Regions from separate parts of the Homo sapiens genome. Here region 2 is linked to region 1. The links come from fine-mapping of genetic effects on gene expression. A gene starts in region 1. The other region holds a variant in brackets. All regions are shown on one strand. Distances are from middle to middle. Region 1 holds the start of CEP19 (centrosomal protein 19). Region 2 has its middle 23 kb from the start of CEP19.

Evidence for each region.
Region 2: its variant is fine-mapped to the expression of CEP19 in whole blood (TOPMed, PIP above 0.99).

What each region holds. Positions count from the first base shown.
Region 1 is chr3:196,710,876-196,713,780 of GRCh38, reverse strand. It overlaps CEP19 (centrosomal protein 19), which reads left to right and starts at 1,531. Exons shown (of 3, transcript NM_032898.5): 1 at 1,531-1,852. It overlaps PIGX (phosphatidylinositol glycan anchor biosynthesis class X), which reads right to left and starts at 1,404. Exons shown (of 6, transcript NM_017861.4): 1 at 1,137-1,404. The coding sequence starts at 1,248. RefSeq lists silencers at 1,005-1,634, 1,469-1,781.
Region 2 is chr3:196,687,805-196,690,709 of GRCh38, reverse strand. No RefSeq gene overlaps it. Among named protein-coding and RNA genes, the nearest start is that of CEP19, 23 kb to the left of the region's middle. The variant G/C (reference allele first, on the strand shown) is at 1,566.

The DNA of each region.
Region 1 (2,905 bases):
ACTGCAACCTCCGCCTCCCTAGTTCAAGCGATTCTCCTGCCTTAGCCCCCTGAGTAGCTGGGACTACAGGGGCACGCCATCACGCCCCGCTAATTTTGACCCCTTTTCAATTATAAAATGCTAACGTTGGAAGCCTCTACAGATTACCAAATCCAACTGTTTAAAAATTCTTCTGGCCGAGCATGGTAGTTCACACCTGTAATCCTGGCACTTTGGGAGGCTGAGGAGGGTGGACCACCTGAGGTCAGGAGTTCAAGACCAGCTTGACCAATACGGCGAAACCCCGTCTCTACTAAAAATACAAAAAATTAGCTGGGCATGGTGGCGGGCACCTGTAATAATCCCAGCTACTTGGGAGGCTGAAGCAGAAGAATTGCTTGAACTTGGGAAAGGCGGAGGTTGCAGTGAGCCGAGATCGCGCCATTGCACTCCAGCCTGGCAACAGAGTGAGACTCCATCTCAAAAAAAAAATCTTCTTGGCCTCATAATCCTTTGTTTAGATAAACTTGAAAACCCAATATGTAAACACACAAGCAGAACTGCACTGATTGACAGATACTAAACGGATCTAAATGATACCAAGGATGACAGAAACATCCTCATTTTACAGATGGAGAAACTTGTAGGGTTTGTGCTTTCCTCCCATCAAACCTTACCCTTTATTGTAATTATTCCCGCACTTGCCCGTCTCAGTAGTACAAGCAGTTTGCCAACTACTACTTGCACGAACAACTAGCAGTTTGCCACGGAGTCCTACATTCAGTTTGGGGATTCTCAGGCCTCACAGGGCGCTAAGGCCTTGCCTGGCCCCTTGGTGATCAGAAGCTTCGTGCAGCTCAAGAGCATCCCAAGACGCTTGACGGCTGACTTTCCTTCTCAGAACTTTAGTAACAGGGCGGCCAGTCCAGCCTGGGAACCGCAGGGCCCGAGCCCGACTCTCCCGGAGACCCGGGATCCGCCGCAGAGCAAAGCGCACGGGAGGGAAGGAGGGCACACGGCTCTAGTGTCTGACCTCCTCCGGCTCGCCCTACTGATCTAGGTCCCGCGCCGGGTCCCCACATCCCCGCAACCCGCCGAGAGGCCCGGGAGCCGGGACCGCTCCCACGCTCTGGCCCCCCAAGCCCCGCCCCCCTTACCGGCGTCAGAGCGCGCGGCGGTGAAGGCCGCGGCGGGCCCGCGCGTGAGCCCGGTCGCCGCCCCGAGGAGCAGCCAGGCGGCCGCCCGAACCGCCGCCACCCGAGCCGCCAGGACGCCGGAAGCCGGACGCCCGAGAGGGGCGCGCGGGGCCAGGTGCGGACGCAGGAAGGGGCCTGGCCGCCCGCAGCTCCTACCGCGCGCTGCCCCAGATTTATCGGCTGGGACCGAGTGCTGGGTGCGCGCGCCTAGCGCCCGCGGTTCCCAGCTGCCTGCAGCCCCGGCCCCCAAGGGTTCCCGCGCGGCGTGGGGCGGTCGTCCCCGCCCAGCTGTTCCTTGCTCCGCCCACCCGGGGGCGGGCGAGGAGCTGCGCACGCGCGGGGACGCGCGCCCGGCCTGTCGCTGTGGAAACCGCTAGGCCAGCGCTCGCCGGGACCTGGAATCCCTGTACGCCGAGGTGGGAGCCGGTGGACCGGTCCCCCAGCCGGCCCCCACCTCCGCTTCCCGGTGTTTGAGGGTTCGGGCCTCCCGCCGGGGAGTTCACCCCTCGGGCTCGTCAGTAGGGCTGTGGCTGTCGCCTCTTCCTGCAGCGCCAGGCTCCGCCCGGTCTCACAGTCGGCTTAGGGGCTTTGCGTGCACTGCGGTTGGGTGGAAAAACCCACTCCTGGTTGTTTAGACGTTGGCCTGCAGACGATGTCATTTCTGTATTCCTCTAAGGGTAAGAAAGCCAGCCTTGCACTAGTGGAGACGTGAGTAGGGAGAGAATCGTCTACTCTTTGGGGACATTCGTACCCTTAGGTGCTGTGGGGCTTCCTAACAAGATTGTGGGCAGTTACTGATCTCTGGGGAGAGGAGTATTCGTGTCCAGGAAGAATAATTGGATAAACGTGCCGTCCTTCTTCCTAAACAGAGTGGAATCTGTAAGCAGGCCAAGAGAGCATCCAGGCGGCTTGGAGTGGAATAGAGGGCTCTAGAGCGGGTGTCTCAAAGAGGAAACAGAGTGTATGTCAAAACATACTATCCAAAACTGAAAATAGCCGGGCAGGTGGCTCACGCCTATAGCCCCAGCACTTTGGGCGAATCACCTGAGGTCAGGAGTTCGAGACCAGCCTGGCCAAGATGGCGAAACCCCGTCTCTACTGAAAATACAAAGATTAGCTGGGCATGGTGGTAGGCACCTGTAATTCCAGCTACTCGGGAGGCTGAGGCACGAGAATCGCTTGAACCCAGGAGGCGGAGGTTGCAGCGAGGGGAGATCACGCCACTGCACTGCAGCCTAGGCGACAGAGGGAGACTCTGTTTCAAAAGAAAAAAAAAAACTGAAAATGGTAGTATAAGCATGTTTCTTAAGAAATGGAGAGAGAAATTTTGGAAGATATGCCTTTTAAAATTCAGTCTGGCTCCCTATGAAGAGGAGTAGGGCCAAGGACGATAGTTTGTTGTTATAAGCCTCATAGAATTATTTTATATTCCAAATACAAACATTACTTTAGCAAAAATTAAAGTTAAATTTTAAAAAGAGTCTAGTAAAAAAAAAACTACATTATTTGAGTACCAACTGCATACATCTTTGACGAGTACAGCCATTGCTTCAGTGTGTGGAGTTTATATGTGCCCCGTAGGTTGTAGTTTACTAACATCAAATTTTAGTTAGGTGAATTGGGAATAGTATTCGTTAAAAAAAAAAAAAAAGCAAGAAAAGAGAAGGAAAAGAAGGAGAAATGGTGTGAGCTCATTGCATCAGATTAGAGGTAGAGCACAGTAATTTTTT
Region 2 (2,905 bases), 23 kb after region 1:
AGGTAATTGGCATTAACCATCAAGACTCTCCTCACATGCTCCCTTCCCACTCTGGCACCCTCCTCCCACAGGCCTTCCTCCCGTCCTGCTGCCTCCATCAGTCTCTTCCTCTGGCAGCCAAGGGTTGCCTCTCCAAGTGGTCCCAGGAGAGAAATCCTAGGGCCACGTATCAGTCAGAACACTAGTCCTGGACACCTGTGTTTCTCCTGCCCGCAGGCAGACCCTTCGGGAGACACTTGACCAGCGCAGGCCCTTGGGGGGCAGCTCGCCAGGTAGGACCCCTCCCTGCCAGCTGGGGTTTCCCAGCTCCCCACGCTTGAGTTCTCCTACCTAGAATCTTCTTAGGACTACTTTTAACAGCTGCAGTCCTCTCTGCTTGCTTTACGCCTCCCGAGACTCGTTGTTGCAAAAGTCTTTCTGTGCTAGAGACCCAAACTTTGAATCTCTACTCAAGCTAGTGGTTCTTAGACTTCAGCATGCACCAGACTCATCTGTGGGACTCACGATAGCGCAGATTGCTGCGTTCCACCCCCAGAATTTCTGATTCAGTAAGTCTGGGGTGGAGCCTAAGAATTTGCATTTATTTTCCTTTTTCTTTTTTTAATTTGTTTGAGATAGAGTCTCGCTCTTGTCACCCAGCCTGGAGTGCAGTGGCGCAATCTCAGCTCACTGCAACTCCCACCTCCCAGGTTTAAGCAATTATCCTGTCTCAGCCTCCTGAGTAGCTGGGATTACAGACGTGTGCCACCACGCCTGGCTAATTTTTATATTTTTAGTAGGGACAGGGTTTTGCCGTGTTGGCCAGGCTGGTCTTGAACTCCTGACCTCAGGTGATCCGCCTGCCTTGGCCTCCCAAAGTGCTGGGATTACAGGTGTGAGCCACTGCGCCTGGCCAAGAAATTGCATTTCTAACAAGCCCCCAGACCACACTTTGAGAAGCGCTGTGCGAGGCTTTTGCTTTCCTTCACTGTTGCTGTGGGTATTGGTGTTCCAACCCACAATTCCCTTTTGCTCATACTAGCTTCAGTATATTCCAGTGTCTCTCTGCTTATAGGCTTTTTGTAATAATCTTATTTCTATGGAATTCTGATATACTATGGCCTTTTTTTTTTTTTTTTTGAGACGGAGTCTTGCTCTGTCGCCCAGGCTGGAGTGCAGTGGCACGATCTCTGCTCACTGCAAGCCCCGCCTCCCAGGTTCACGCCATTCTCCTGCCTCAGCCTCCCGAGTAGCTGGGACTACAGGCGCCCGCCACCACGCCCGGCTAATTTCTTGTATTTTTAGTAGAGACGGGGTTTCACCATGTTAGCCAGGATGGTCTCGATCTCCTGACCTCGTGATCCGCCCGCCTTGGCCTCCCAATATACTGTGGCCTTCTATTTTAACTATCCTACGACCACTGGCTCTGTGGGCCAGGGTTTCACCCTCACACAGGTGCTATGCACTTAGAAGGCATTCTTTTTTTTTTTTTTTTTTTTTTTTTCAGATGGAGTTTCGCTCTTGTTGCCCAGGCTGGAGTGCAGTGGCGCCATCTCAGCTCACCACAACCTCCGCCTCCGCCTCCC[G/C]GGTTCAAGTGATTCTCCTGCCTCAGCCTCCTGAGTAGCTAGGATTATAGGCACACACCACCACACCCAGCTAATTTTGTATTTTAGTAGAGACAGGGTTTCTCCATGTTGGTCAGGCTGGTCTCGAACTCCCGACCTCAGGTGATCTGCCCGCCTCGGCCTCCCAAAGTGCTGGGATTACAGGCATGAGCCACCGTGCCTGGCCTAGAAGGCATTCTTGCTGAAGAAATTCGGCGGAGGGAAGGATTCATGCAGGCTGGAGCAACAGGGAAAGCTTCACAAAAGGAGTTGGAGTTGAGTGTGTCCTCAAAGGGAGATTTGTCTGTGTAGAAGGGAGAGGAACGAGCATTCCTGACAATGGCTCCTGGACATAGGAGCATTTGTTGGGATGACACGGAGGAACAGACTCTCACTGGAACACACATCTCTTCAATGAGGTGGTGAAATACATCATGGGAAGGAGCCTGTCTGTACCAGAACTCTTACAACCTATTAAGTGCAATTAGCCTCGCTGTAGCCAAAGGGATGTTGATTTTGCTCAGCAGATTGTTATTCAGGATCCCCAGGGACAGTGGTGCTGTGTGGGCAAAGCAGCGTGGGCAGCAGCAGCGTGGGAATGGGTGTGTTCACTCCCGAAGCCCAGGACAGATAACTCCACTTCTTGTTTCTGTAGAAAGAAGTGTGGCAAGAGCTGACCCGAGGAAGAAGCTTTGCTCAATAGGAAATGAGCTATGATGATGAAATGAGGAAGCCCTGCTGGGCTTCAGCTTGATGGTTCTGAATTATAAAGAGAAAAGAATGTGCAAAAAGCGAATATGATCGTGGAAAACTGGAAACACTCCAAATATCGAAAACTGGAAACACTCCAAATATCCATCAATAAGACATTGGTTAAGTGAATTGCGCAGTGTCCATGCTGCGGCATACTATGAAACCCTTAGGCAGAAGAAGGTAGCACTGGGCATAGTGACCTGGAAATAACTCCTAGCTACATGGTTAAGTGAGGAAAACAAGTTGCCAAATAGTATATTATAATTCTTTGATTTAAAAAATATATCAGTAAAAACTCTTGAATGAGGCCAGGTGCAGTGGCTCACACCTGTGATCCCAGGACTTTGGGAGGCCGAGGCGGGCGGATCACCTGAGGGCAGGAGTTTGAGACCAGCCTAACCAACATGTAGAAACCCCATCTCTACTAAAAATACAAAATTTAGCCGGGCGTGGTGGCGCATGCCTTTAATCCCAGCTACTCGGGAGGCTGAGGCAGGAGAATCGCTTGAGCCTGGGAGGCAGAGGTTGCAGTGAGCCGAGATCACACCATTGCACTCCAGCCTGGGCAA